4 linked regions of the Homo sapiens genome follow. The protein of the gene in region 4 purifies or fractionates together with the protein of the main gene of each other region. This does not show direct contact. Each region holds a gene or a part of one and is shown on either strand. Other genes may lie near its edges.

The links. Proteins that work in one complex are often made in the same cells at the same time.
Region 1: the proteins of TTK (region 4) and TACC2 purify together in Homo sapiens (affinity purification with western blotting; one study listed by BioGRID and IntAct). This does not show direct contact.
Region 2: the proteins of TTK (region 4) and IBTK purify together in Homo sapiens (affinity purification with mass spectrometry, with the first as the bait; one large-scale study listed by BioGRID). This does not show direct contact.
Region 3: the proteins of TTK (region 4) and XIRP2 purify together in Homo sapiens (affinity purification with mass spectrometry; one large-scale study listed by BioGRID and IntAct). This does not show direct contact.

The regions. Positions count from the first base shown.
Region 1 is NC_000010.11:122,086,663-122,090,162, reverse strand, and holds part of TACC2 (transforming acidic coiled-coil-containing protein 2), read right to left. Parts: coding exon 2,204-3,500; intron 1,686-2,203; coding exon 1,572-1,685; coding exon of another isoform or gene 1,425-1,571; intron 1-1,424. UniProt on the Homo sapiens protein: Plays a role in the microtubule-dependent coupling of the nucleus and the centrosome. Involved in the processes that regulate centrosome-mediated interkinetic nuclear migration (INM) of neural progenitors.
Region 2 is NC_000006.12:82,213,245-82,216,744, forward strand, and holds part of IBTK (inhibitor of Bruton tyrosine kinase), read right to left. Parts: intron 3,007-3,500; coding exon 2,832-3,006; intron 1,586-2,831; coding exon 983-1,585; intron 1-982. UniProt on the Homo sapiens protein: Acts as an inhibitor of BTK tyrosine kinase activity, thereby playing a role in B-cell development. Down-regulates BTK kinase activity, leading to interference with BTK-mediated calcium mobilization and NF-kappa-B-driven transcription.
Region 3 is NC_000002.12:167,248,480-167,251,979, reverse strand, and holds part of XIRP2 (xin actin-binding repeat-containing protein 2), read right to left. Parts: coding exon 33-3,500; intron 1-32.
Region 4 is NC_000006.12:80,025,149-80,028,648, reverse strand, and holds part of TTK (dual specificity protein kinase TTK), read right to left. Parts: intron 2,272-3,500; coding exon 2,135-2,271; intron 765-2,134; coding exon 638-764; intron 1-637.

The DNA of each region.
Region 1 (3,500 bases), on a different chromosome or scaffold from region 4:
CAACAAGTCATGAAATATTTATTGTACTACTATACATCTGGCCCTGCCTTCTCCAAGAAGGTGCTAACATGTTTAAGGACTCTGAAAAAGAAGGCACTGATATGGTCATTTTTGGGGTGGGGAAGACTTTTCCAAGCTAGACAGATATTTCTCCTGCCCCTTAACTGGGAATATAAAAAATACATAACAGCAAAGGCTGCAGGAAATTGTATCCTAAGTCAGTAGCAAAAAAGGGTGTCCAATGCAGATTAAACTTGCATCTGTTTGGCCAGCACATGCCCACATCCACATTGGCTCAGAGCTATGGGAGTCACTACTGCCAGGCGGCAGAGGCAGCTGGGTGTCAGTGGAAGTGTTCAGACTCGAAAAACAGGTGATCGTGCATTCTTTCTGAATGTGCAAAATATGAATCAGATCATTTATAAAATGCCTGCAGCTGTTTGGTAGGGTACACAGGTACTAATTTAAAGTCTGATTCCACCCTACTCATACACACAAGTGTTGTATGCATGTATATGTGTGCACACACAGCACCAGAACAGCCAAAGGCCTAGGGAGGCGGAAAGCTTGTTCACTGTGTGTCTGTGTACGTGCACAATATCACCATTTCCCCAAAAGGATGAAACCTTGAGCAGCAGCTTCTGCATAACACTAGGTGGCATTTCATGTAGAAAAGAACAGGCAGGCACACTGCAAGTGTGAAGGTCACTGTTCGTGGTTACATTTACCCTCCTTGAATCTCGAGATCTCCTGGAGTGTGACCGCTGTTGGTGAGCCATTCCTGCTTCGGAGACTAAATCAGCATTGAACCCATTTGCATCAAGATGTAATGAACTAGATGAATGGGTGCCTAGAGATGATGCGGCGGGTGTGGGGGCTGGGGTATGATATCTAGGGGCTGTAGGGTTTCTTTCTGTGGGGATGAAAATAACCTGAAATTGATTGTAGCCATGGTTACACACTGTGAATATACTACAAGCCACTGAATTGTATGAGTGAATTATGTGGTATATGAATTGCATCTCAATAAAGATTCTTTTCTTTTTTTGAGACAGGGTCTCTGTCACCCAGGGTGGAGTGCAGTGGCACAAACACGGCTCACTGCAACCTTCACCTCCTGGGCTCAAACGATCGATCCTCCCAACTCAGACTTCCAAGTAACTGGGACTACAGACACGTGCCACTGTGCCCGGCTAATCTTTGTATTTTTTCTAAAGATGGGGTTTCACCATGTGGCTGGTCTCAAACTCCTGGGCTCAAGTGATCTTCCTGCCTCGACCTCCCAAAGTGTTGGGATTACAGGCATGAGCCACCGCACCCAGACTGACTTTTTAAATTTAAGGTAATAAACTCAAGTATGAAAGCAACTCATTCAATCCCTTTTCCAACAATGGAGCTTTTAGTCATCCCAGGTACTGCTGTACCTGTACATAAAACGGGAATGGCCATTTGCTTCTTTCTTATGTAGGAACTCATGCTGTATAAGGACTACTCTCCTTTCCAAAACATCCAGTGTGTCTGTATCTAAGGAAGGCATCATGGCCTTCCAAAGACCAATATCTTTCGCTGACCTTTCTGTTCCTTCCGCACCTCTGGTCTCATCTGAAGTGACTTTATCCATGACTCTTGGAGCATCCTTCTTAGGAACCGAAGGTAACATGGATGGGCCAGGCCTGGGGCTCTCTCTGGGATAATAAAAGAAAGCAATTAATAGGATAATGTAGATAGTAAGGCATTTCTCCTCATGTCCTATTGAAAAAGCAGATTTCTCAATTAAAGTTTTAAGTGGCTACTACAAAAAAAAAAATCCCTAGGAAAAAGGGCCCCCTGACTAAATAAATCCAGATTCAAAAGCAGATGTATCTGGACTCCAGAAAAATATATGACTGACTATAACCTATCACTTAATAGTACACAGCCAGCCAGTAAACAGTTGATACTTTTCCAGTGGTTTAAGTTAGATGAATTAAGGAACACAAGAAAAAGAACATAGTCAACAGCTCCCAGCCTCCAACCATGGTTCTCACATTTTTCAGAGCCTCAGGACATCCAGAGGGGGTAAGCAGGTTCATTTAGCAATTAGATATGGAAAACTCAGCTTTTAGAAAACCACTCACCTATGCGACTGACTTCTAAAAATCAGGCTGGGAATCACCTTTGAAACTGACCACACATTCCCGTGGGAATTTTTTCATTTAAGTACCTGTCAGTGTGGAGCTCTTCTGGAGCCAAATGTTGCAGCTTCGGGTCGTGAGTTTCGTCAGGCTCTGGAGGTGAGGAGACGCACACCTTCCCATCCCCAGCTGGAATGGGGCGCTCAGGCCCTGGCTGCTCCTTAGCCTGCTGGGGCCTGGCTGGGCTGTCCCCATGAAGGGCAGCTGTACCCTCCATCCCCGGAGCCTTGTCAGAGCAGGCTGGGTCCTGACAGCTTCCTGGCAGCACCAAGTCACCTGCCACAACGGAGAATGTCCTCGTAGTACCTGCTTCAGGCAGATCACCGGACGCACATGCCTGTGTCTCAGCTGTGCTCAGGGTGATGTCACCCTCTGCTTCCCCAGCAGCGCCTGCCACCTTGCCAGGCTCCAGGGGAGTGTCTGCCACTTCTCCAGTTGGTGGTGCAGGGGTGCTCTGGTTGCCCAGGGCATTTCGCATTTCCAAGATGCCAGCAGTGACTCCGGGTCTCCTTTCACCCCCAAGCGTGTCAAGGGTCCAGGGCTCACTGTTGGCCTCAGGCACAGTCAAAACCTCCCTCTGAGGAGAAGGGGCACACGTGGACCTTGGCACATGTCCTGGAACCCCTGTGTGAGCAAAGTCCCCGGGACCATCTTCTCCATGTGGACTGTCGCAGGCAGATGTTTCCTGGTGCTGCTTTCCAGAAGGAATTCTGTCTTGGGCCACGGCCTCTTCTCCATGGCTATGGGGAGCCACCTGGAAGGCAGCAGCTCTCTCCACAGGGAGCTCCTGAGTAGCTGCTGGTGAAGGAAGACCTGAAGCTAATTCCTGCCTGCTCCTCTCCAGCTGTGAGTAAGCCTGGCCTTCCAGGCCTGGCCAGGCTGCCCCAGGCCCCTCTGGCCTCTCGTCTTCCCTCAGTGTGGGTGGGACACCTGCCATCTCCTTCCCCACACCGGCACCTGGCAAGTTCCGCTCCCAGGTCAGCCCTGCTGGACCCAGAAGCTTGTCTGAAGCTGGATCTTGCAGAGCCAGATGGGAAATCTCAGCCTCTCCAGCCAACTGTTGCTTCTTCTCCACCTGGAGTCGAGCAGGAGGTGCAGGGAGAAGGGTGACATCCACTCCTGGAGGCCCATCTAGAAGCTTCTCTGGGCCCAATGGCCTGGTGAGGTCTTTACCCACTGCACTCCTCCCAGCTCCTGCCTTTTCTCCAGGTGTGGCCAGGGCTCCGAGCACAGGCTTCTCGAAGATCTTGGCGATGTGCTCCCTGAAGTCTGGGAAGCCAGTGAGGGTGGCGATTTGCTCAGAGCTTGTGTCCACACCACCTGATG
Region 2 (3,500 bases), 2.2 Mb from region 4:
TCTCAAACTCCTGACCTCAGGAGATCTGCCCACCTCAGCCTCCCAAAGTGCTGGGATTACAGGCGTGAGCCACCGCGCCCGGCCCCTTCATTATTTTTAAACAGGAAACACGATACACACCCCTCCTCTCTTCCCACCCTACAACGAAGGTTTAACTGCCACAAGCAACATAAATACCTTAAAAAAAGAAAGAATTTCAAATAATCTGATTCATAATATGATACTATGGTGTTAGGCAATTTACATATGACAAAACCATATCAACAATATGAGGCAAATATTATCTTTCCCATTTCTTATATTGAGAAACTGAAGTAAGAAGGATCGCTTGAGCCCAGGAGTTCGAGAAACTGAGGTAAAAGAAAATTGTCCCAGCCAGGAATAGTAAAGCTAAGAGATATGTATGTCTAACTTGAAAGACCTTTCCAGCATACCACATTGCCTGCCACTCCAGATCCCTGTTACATACACAAACCAGAGTTCAAACCCACCAACAGCTTTCCTATCCATTAATGTAATCCAAGAAGTCCCAGAGATAGCTCTGCCCGCAAATGGAGGAAAGACATATCCATGTACCTCCCCAAAAAAAGGATGGGTAGGGAGAAAGGGAGAGAGAGGAAGAGGAGGGGAAGGAGAAAGAGAAGGGGATGGAACAAGTGGGAGGAGACTTGGGGAGGGGAAAGAAAAGCAAAGCAAGGCAAAAAGGGTGGGATTTTTTTTTTTTTCTTTGAGACACAGTCTCGCTCTGTCGCCCAGGCTGGAATGCAGTGGCGCAATCTCGGCTCACTGCAAGCTCCGCCTCCCGGGTTCAGGCCATTCTCCTGCCTCAGCCTCCTGAGTAGCTGGGACTACAGGCGCCCGCCACCACACCCGGCTAATTTTTTGTATTTTTAGTAGAGATGGGGTTTCACAGTAAGGGTGGGAAATTTTTTAAAGGAGGACTGAATGAGGTACAGGAACAGATATAAAAGAGAAATCATACCTACTACTCAAATTACTGAAGTCGAATTTCTTTGCAACAGTTTGCAACATTCTTACAGGATCATCTTCCCTAATATTTTTTCCTTTTTTACAAGATTTAGGTTTGCTCTTCTGCCTCTCACTAACTGTTTGAGCTTGATTACTTTTGTAAACTTCAAATGCAGACTTCTGGTTATCATCTTCATGGAAATTCACTTTATTCAAATGAGAATTCAGAGTTCCCTGATATTCTTCTGGGTTTTTGTTTAAGTGTATTCTTGGTTTGAAGCCATGAGTTAAAAAGTCACAAGTATCTGTGTATATAAATTGTAAAAGGTATTCAAACATGTCAGGATGAACCTTCTCTACCACAAAGAGATGGCACCCTGCAGAATCTTCATCTTTCTGGTAAATATCTGTAAATTCTGAAGTATTACCATCTGAAAGAAACAATTTCTGAAAAAAATCAGAATGCACTGCCAAAATATATTTATGTGCAGGGAAGAGTCTATTGCCAACTTGAAATGTCACATCATGAATGCTGTCCATTTCATCTGCTTCCCTCAACAGTTTGCCAAACTCTTCAAAAAAGGATGATGAGGACACAGCTGGAATTTCATAAAGGCTAGAAAGAAGACAAAAACAAATTATGCTTCAAAAAATATGAAGGAAATCCTTTTTCATACCTAGCCAATTCTCCTTTAAAATGCAATTTTTTTAACAATATTTAGAAAATTTTAAATTTGGCATTTCCTAAAATACAAGAATATTGCACAAAGTCCTAGATGCTATATCATCCTTTAATTTTTTTCTATTCCTTTTTATATTTATATTCTATTCTTCTCTCAAATTAAAATGATAAGAACTAAGTTGTCCGTATCCCTGGTTCTTACAGTACTGTGGGAATGCAATTACACCTTCCCAACCAACATTTCACCCTTCTCAGTAGGAAGACCAACCCTCCTGTGGTTTGCCTTGGACTGACGAGTTTCTCAGATGAGACTTTCAATGTTAAAACTGGGGCAGGCCTGGGCAAACCAGGATGGATGATGACCCTACTTGCAGAATTTCCTCCCTCTTCAACAGTACCCTTGATGTTTATCTTAATCTGATACCTCTCTGCTTATGTGACTTAGGAGATTTGCATTGCGATTTACAGATGGCGCCACAACACTTATTTTGCCAATTCTCATCATATTCAAGGGTCAGAAATCTTTGCAAACTGCCTAAGAAATATTTATAATACATTTTTCAGAATCTGAGAACCCAGGGTACATCATACAGTATGAAAGACAAATAAGGCAGGGTGCGGTGGCTCATGCCTGTAATCCTAGCACTTTGGGAGGCCGAGGCTGGCGGATCACCTGAGGTCAGGTGGTCAAGACCAGCCTGGCCAACAGGGCAAAACCCCATCTCTACTAAAAATACAAAAATTAGCTGGGTGTGGTGGCGGGCACCTGTAATCCCAACTACTTGGGAGGCTGAGGCAAGAGAACTGCTTCATCCTGGGAGGTGGAGGTTAGAGTGAGCCGAGATTTTGCCACTTAGCCTGGGCAATAGAGCAAGACTCCATCTCAAAAAAAAAAAAAAAAAAAAGAAAGACAATAAACTTTGTGAGTGCATGTATAGATATTTTCAATATTTTCAATAAATGTCAGTTTATAAACCAAAGGAAACATTCATCACTCCAAGTATAACAAATTCTACCTCTGGATTATCTGTAGACATAATCTGTAAACATGATTATGTCTAAGGTCTCTATAGGTCTTGGCAACAGCTCTTCAATTAAATTTGCACCAGCAGCTACTGAAAACAAGAAAATTCAGTGATTGTTCCTTCTAAAAAATGAAATTTAATATATACAAGTATACCTTGTTTTAGGATCTGACTGCAGGATTGCAAAGTTGCATCCACTTGGATCTGTGCTGACACTAACAGCTCTATGTGCAAAGGTAAGTTTCTCAAGTCGAATTCTTTCATACACACTATTTATATCAGAGACATAAGACACATCTGATGAGGAATTGTGAAGGTTTGATAAAATCTCTGTTAAAAAAAAATAAACTACCATTAATCAAGGCTTTACTGAAACTACTAAAATGATTGAGAAGTAAATGGAATAGAAAAGGAGTTAGAAAAATATGGAAATCTTTTTCACATATATTCAGTGTTTTTGAAGAACTACATCCTCTCTTCAACACATTTTCCACTGAATATATTGGCTGTATTATACAGGAAATTTTTGGTGGATGGATTCTCAATTATCCATGATTCCATCTCTTTCAACAAACACATCCTCCATACTGCAACCAAAGTTCCCTTTCTAAAAAGCAAATCTAGTGTCATACTAGCTTTTAAAACTTTTCAACTTATACTTCCTGTTGCCCAAAGGGAAAAAAATTCTTCAACTTGGATTAAAAATATATAAATCTACTGTCTTCATAATCTGCTTGTTTATTTGCTTCCTCCCTTTCTCTTCCCCCTTTCTTGCATGTATTCAGAAAATATGTGCGTAACCAAACTGGGCTACTATGATATCA
Region 3 (3,500 bases), on a different chromosome or scaffold from region 4:
AATCTTCTTTAACACATTGCAAGCTCATTTACCACTTATAAATGCAGATTCCTCTTGGAAGGTGGTTCTCATCTCAGTTGCAGAAGCATCTGCGGTTGCATATCCCAGGCCTTTAAAAACTCTTCCACTCTCTTGCCACGTCTTTTGAAAATTTTTTCTTACTTCTTTAGGTGAATCAGAGATATCTAAAATATGTCCAGCAATGACATCCTCATAGGTTGGTGGGGCATGCTTGAAGTCACAGCCAGATTTGCCAGCTTCTGAGCTATGTGATGAAGAGGTTTTCATCTTCGACTCAACAATTTGACTCTCAAATGCATCCATGCCTGAGAAATGTTCACTTAGAGACCTGGTTTCAGAGCAGATCCTGGGCTGCTTAACAGGAATCTTTTCTCGCAGTTCTCTAGGATGTTTGCAAGAAAAGTCTGTAAAACTCGTGTTTCCTAAAGATGTTAATCCAAATTCCTCCTTACAAAATGTACGACTTTCTTGTTGTATGTTATGGTTTGTTTCTCCCTTTGCATAAACTCTTCTATTTGACTTTGCTTCAGAAACTGGGCCATGCTCAAATTCCCTGAACCATCTGTTTATTTCATTTTCAGGGTCATTCACGAAATTTTCAGCCATTTGAACAGTTCGGTTGGCCGCTTCATATCTCTGTGTGTGCTCTGACAGGCGAGGAGGCACTGCAACCTTGCGGATGATTTCAACTGCATCATAACTTTCAGTGTCGGGCACCATGTGATCAGTGGAATTTAGTCCATCTTTATGAACATAAGTAGCTCTCTTCTCCACTTTCCTGATTTCCTCTTGAGCGTCCACAGATTCTCTGAAGGAACCACTAGCAGCATGATTTATATTTACTGGTATTGTGATTGTAGGTGGAGAGTCCCTACCACGAGTTTCTATCTTAATTTGACGACGAAGTGTTGCAGGAGACATGATGATTTCAGACCTCTTCTCTACAATTGGAACCGGGGTTGCTGCTGGACATGGGATGGCCCCTTTGGATAACTTTGCAGTGGTGTCTTTGAGTCTGACAAGTTGTTCAGAGCGACTCCTGGGTGGAGAAGGGGAAGTGTTTGCTCTGTGAATTTCAGATTTTTGCGACATGGGCCTTCTTGGTGGGGGTTCAACATAACTGTCCTTTTTAGGGGACTGAGAAAGCTCGTTCTTAGTAGGGTTTTCTGTTCGTCGGGCAGTAGATTCTATTGTGATAAAAGTTGGTGACGGTGGGCGTGTTTTTAAAGAGGGAGGAGGAATGTTGCTATCATCAAGTTTAATTTCCTGATGGGTTTTCACGTGACTACGAACAGTTGCTTCATGATGAGCTGCTACTTGGTGCTGTACTGTTTTCTCTTTGGCAATTTTATTTTCTTTCTGTTCACTATTTTTATTATTGCTGACATGAACATTAGATACTTTGGATGATGTTTCATCAAGACTAGTGGGTTTATTTCCCGGTTTTCCTGTTTTGGAGGACATCATGGCTGTCTGAATTATATTTTCATAGGACACAAGCATATCTTCCGCTTGAGTTTTAATATGTGTTATTTCTTCTTTTACTTTTTCTAAATTATTCTCCATGGCAATGTGAACTGCATATTCTCTCTTATCTTCACTTATCAGCCATCCTGGGATAGTATTTAATAGTGTCTGAAATGTTTTAAGGCCACTTTTATTTGGCTCTGCTTCAAACTGTTTCACTCTCGACAAAATCTGTTGCAGTTCTTCACGTTTTCTCAAGAATTCCACTATATTTAAGGCACCTTTTCCATCATCCCGCTGGGATTCTTTCACAGAGGAAAAGAAAGATTTGTTCTGTGTAATCTCTTGCTTTGAATCTTTAGTATTAGAGAAGACTTGTTTCTCTTGTATGCCCTTGACTTCGAGACATTTTTCTTCCTGCAGACTATTATATGGCTGGGGCAATTTTTTATGTTCAGCTTTACTTTCAGCGGTCTGTATTTGTGTTTGCTGAAAATTCTGAGTCTGTGAATCAAGATGTGCATCGATAACCTTTTGCTTGACGACCTTTGGTGCTGATTTATTCTTCAGATGTTCGTGTTTTCTTTCAGTTATTAATCTCTCTTCTTTTCGACCAATCATTGATGGTCCCTGATTTTTTTCTTCACTTCCTGGAAGTTTCCCTCTGTCAGATCCGCTAAATTCTCTTTGCTTCCTGGGAACCATCTTGAGCTTATCTTCCTGGTTCTTCTGTATGGATTCTGTAGGCAATTGTACTGTCACTCTTTTCTCCTTCTTAGGTAACTGATAATGTCTTTCAGCCAGAGATTGCTTATGACTACATTCAGTGCTTGCTTCAGTTTTCTTGGTTTTCAGATATTGTTTTTTGGTAAAGGTTTGAACATCAATCTCAGATTGCTGTTTATGACTTTCATAGCTGTGGTCTGTTTCATTTAATGTATGATCTAGAGTTGGAAGTTTGATGGTTTTAACTTTGAAATTTGGGGAAATTGGTTTGCTTTGGGGCAAGTGCAACTGCTCCAAATACTTCTTCTGTTGTGTTTGTTGGGTACTACATTCTTGGTGACTTTGTTTAATTTCGCAAGCTGATTTGGATTGCATAATGTCCCTTGAGCTTTGTAAAACTTCCTTTTTCATCTTATCTTTGTCTTCTGAAGCTGCTAAAACATGGTGGAGCCTCTTGGCAGCGACTGTTTCTGGCGATGTTGTGGAGAGTTGGTTATCAGAACACACTCCTAGTATCCGAGCATTACTTTGAGAGCCTGGGCTGGGTTGAACCACAGTGCATTCTGAATCAATTCCAGATAGGGAAACCTCCTCATTGGTTTTTTGTAATGGCATTTCCTTTTCCACCTCTGTTATGTGTTGATTTTGGCTTTGAGTTTTAACAATGTTGTAGTAAGAACTCTCCTGTTTCTGTTTTTCAATTTCTTCTTTTTGTTGTCTATATTTTTCTTCAGCAATCATTAAAGGTGTCTTAAATTTTCTCATATAAGGTTTTGGATTTTGTTGTCCTGAACTCTCTGGAAATGAATGAGATTTTATAAGAGGCGCAATCTGTTTTTTCCTGGGTGCTGAAGTTCCTGGAACTGTGTGTGAGAGACAGTTTGCAGAGTCAATAGATAATTGTTTTCTTTCATCAAGACTCTTACTAATAACGTTCTGCTTTGTCTCCGTGTGTTCACTGCTGGTCATCACCATTACTTTTTTCTGATCCTTTGAGGTAGTAATTTTACATTCCATATCTGACAGGGAGGTTGCCAGTTCAACTTTGGGGGAAAAATCGTTCTTATTATCTTTTATATGCTTGGGAAGTTTGGGTTTGGGCAATGTGGGAGGTGGCAACACACCGGTTTTTCCTGTTATGATTTTAGCCTGAGAATTCTGAGAGTTCGAGGCTTCTTTTTGGGAATATTGTTGCATGAAGTCTCCACTGTGCTTTTCCGGAGCAGAGGAGGAAAGGAGATGTGCTGGCTTTTGAGATGGAGTTGGAGGAGGAGGAGGCGGCAGAA
Region 4 (3,500 bases):
CAGCTGACAAAACACAACAAAAAGTAACGCTGGCCAGGCGCAGTGGCTCATGCCTGTAACCCCAGAACTTTGGGGGGCTGAGGCGGGCGGATGGTTTGAGGCCAGGAGTTTGAGACCAGCCTGAGCAACATGGTGAAACCCTGTCTCTAGTAAAAATACAAAAATTAGCCAGGTGTGGTGGTGCGTGCCTGTAATCTCAGCTACTCGGGAGGCTAAGGCACGAGAATCGCTTGAACCTGGGAAGCAGAGGTTGTAGTCACCCGAGATCGCGCCACTGCACTCCAGCTTGGGCAATAGAGCGAGACTCTGTCTCAAAAAATAAATAAATAAATAAATAAATAAATAAATAAAAATAAAAAATAAAAGGTAACCTTGATTCATAAGAGAAATTTTATCCAGCTATTCAAACTGGATCCTTTGGCCTAGTTATTAAGAGTAGCTTCGTAAGCTTCTTCAATAACCAACCTCTCAAAGCCACAAGGCACACTCTTATTAGAATATCAGAAAAGTTTTGTCTAGTGGAAATAAGAATGGCCAAGTTCTTAAGACCTTTCTTGATAACTAGATGCTATAAAAATAAAAGCTGTAAAACGGACTGTATCTTAACATATACCATCATATATAAAGCTTATCGAACCTGTAAATTTTGAAGTGGAGTGGCAAGTATTTGATGCTGTTGCTGCTGGAAACAGGCAGGTTGGCCATAAGGTGTTGACAACTGACAAGCAGGTGGAAAGTCATTCTTTACAACTGGAGTTCTAAAACTAGGAAATATATATATATTTTTATTTAAAACATTACAATTTAACAAATAAGTCTGATTCAGTTTCATGTATTTTAGACTGATATAAACTTAAAAGTGTTACATCAAACAGAACCCAAGTTAGTTTTCATGATATAGCTGACACTTATTCCAGATATGCCACCACCGGATATTTAATTTTGGGGAATTCTTTCTGAAAGTAAATATTTGTATGCAGACAAGAAATCTTTGTTTGAAAAGATGGCATTTAAAATACAAAGTGGTTAGGGTTATTTTATATGAATTTAGCAAACATCAGCTTGTGGCCGGCCATAGATTTTGAGTTTTTTTTTAAACAATAATGTTCTATAATGGCTTGCTAGAAATATCAGAAAGCCAATTACATCACAGGAGTTTGGCCTTTGAGCTTAAATCTGTCCAGTATACATTTGTGCTTTGTTTGCCTTTTTGCTATTAATATATCCTCAACACCTAGAACAATGCTTGGCACAAAAGAGCTCCACAAATATTTGTTAACAATAATTAACCTAGTATCACAAGAAATATCTATTATCGCTATTTTAGTTAGCAATCATTCTTTAGAATATTCTACATATAATAAAATGAGGCAATATATAGTAAAACTATATTAAGTAGGTAAGAGGCTGGGTTATAAAATCTTTAAGACCAGTTCTAATTAAGATCAAGGATTACATTATGAAAATGAAACGCAAAAGACAACACGGATTTAAGCTATCCCCTAAGACATTAAAGATATAGCCACCGGTTGATGGTTATAATGTATCGCATCCCTTTATTTCCTTTCTCTGAAATGTCATTCATTTTCTTTTGTAGTATCCCTTGTGTTCCCTATCAGCACACTCATCATCGAACTTCTTCACTTATCCATCATTCCTATTCACTCAAATACTACACCTTTGAATACCTCCAGAACTACATGAACTGTAAAAACCAATCTCTTCCAGAAGCTATCACTTTCCAATTAACACCACTTATGTGAAAAAATTCATCTACTCTTTATCTGCTCTAAGAATGCTAACCTTTAAAATCTCTCTCTTAATAGAGAGATATCTGTATGGCAATACATGATTATCAAGACGTTTTACATCCTTAGAATATTTATAGGTTGTAGGTACAGATTACGATATGACAGAAACTACATGCACAACAATCCTTAAAAATATGCATTATTGCAACCACTTCCCCCTTTCCATTTTATAGATGAAAACACTGATGCTGAAAAAATAATATGAAGATGGAAAGTCTTTAAAGTAAAAGAGCAGGATTTAATCCCAGATTTATTTGGCCCAGAAGCCCATGTTAATTCTATCATACCACCCTGCCAATCAAGCAAGGGGCCAAAGTAATTACCAGCTCATGTAATCATCCAAGGTATTGCTGCTTGGTGTCTTACAAATAGATTTTGGGTCAAACCATTTAGATGTTGATATTGGTGGTGACTGTTTTGAAACTGAAAAGACAGGTTGCTCAAAAGTGGTATGTTTCTGCTAAAACAAAATAAAGAACACCATGATTTAGTTTTTAAATTAGTTGCCTGTTCACTAGTTTTTACAAATATTATAACTTTTAAAATAAAATAATAACATATGATATACAAAGGCATACTAAAAGAGATAGGCATATATATACATTTTAGACTTTCAATAATTTTTTTAGTGTAGTTATTTTACTCCAAATTCTTAAGCCTAGTGCATTCTGCTCAAACTGATGGCAAGTACAGGGAAGGCACACAAAATTACTTAAAACAGAATTTAACATTCTCTTCCATCAGAGCTATTGTAACAAGTATTAAATTCTTATCATCTAAAATAGTATCCTGTGTTTCTGAAAATCAGCCTTTCTTTAATCAATAAAACTCTATTCCCTTCTCCTCAAATGTAGACAAATACTAATTACTTAGCAAAATGTGGAATGACAAATGCCTATCTTGTGTCCTCCATAAGAAGAGACAGAACCTGTAGAAATTCTTTTTCCAAAAGCATTGTTGGGAAAAAAAAAAAAAAAAGAACCTATAGGATTCATCCTATACAAACCCCAAACAATGATGAAGGAACATCCGCTGCAGCAGAAATCAGCAAATTACAGCCTACAGGCTCAGGCTGAATGTGGCCTGCTGCCTGCCTATTTTTGTAAACAAAGTTTTATTAGAATATGGCTATGCCAATTTGTTTACATATTGTCTATGGCTTTTATTTTCATGCTCTAATGGCAGAGGTGAAAAGCTACAACAGAGCCCATCTAGCCTGGAAAGCCTGCTAACCCTTTACATAAAGTTTGCTAACCCCTGCTGTAGCACATCTCAATTAAATAGAGAACCAAGTTTTGCTTGAATACTTTTAGTAACTAAGCACTCACTAGTCTACAGAGGTTCACTTCAATTTCAGGACAGCTTTAGTTATTAGAAAATATTTGCAGATAATTTGGATTATATTGGTTTATCTATTATAATTTCAACACACTGGTCCTCATTACGCACTTGAGAATTACAATGACTAAATCTATCCTACTTTCTACATTTCAGTCTTGGCCAAGAAATTTTTTTTCCAGGATAAATTTTCCCTCTCATTTAAGACTTCGTGTGTCTGTGCTCACGTACAAGCACGCACATATTTTAAGATTAGTGGTAAAGATGTTACTGAGGAACTGCTGTAATAAGATTAATGAACAAGGAAAATGAAAAAGATCACGATCATAGAGTGGAATGTTAGCATCTGCG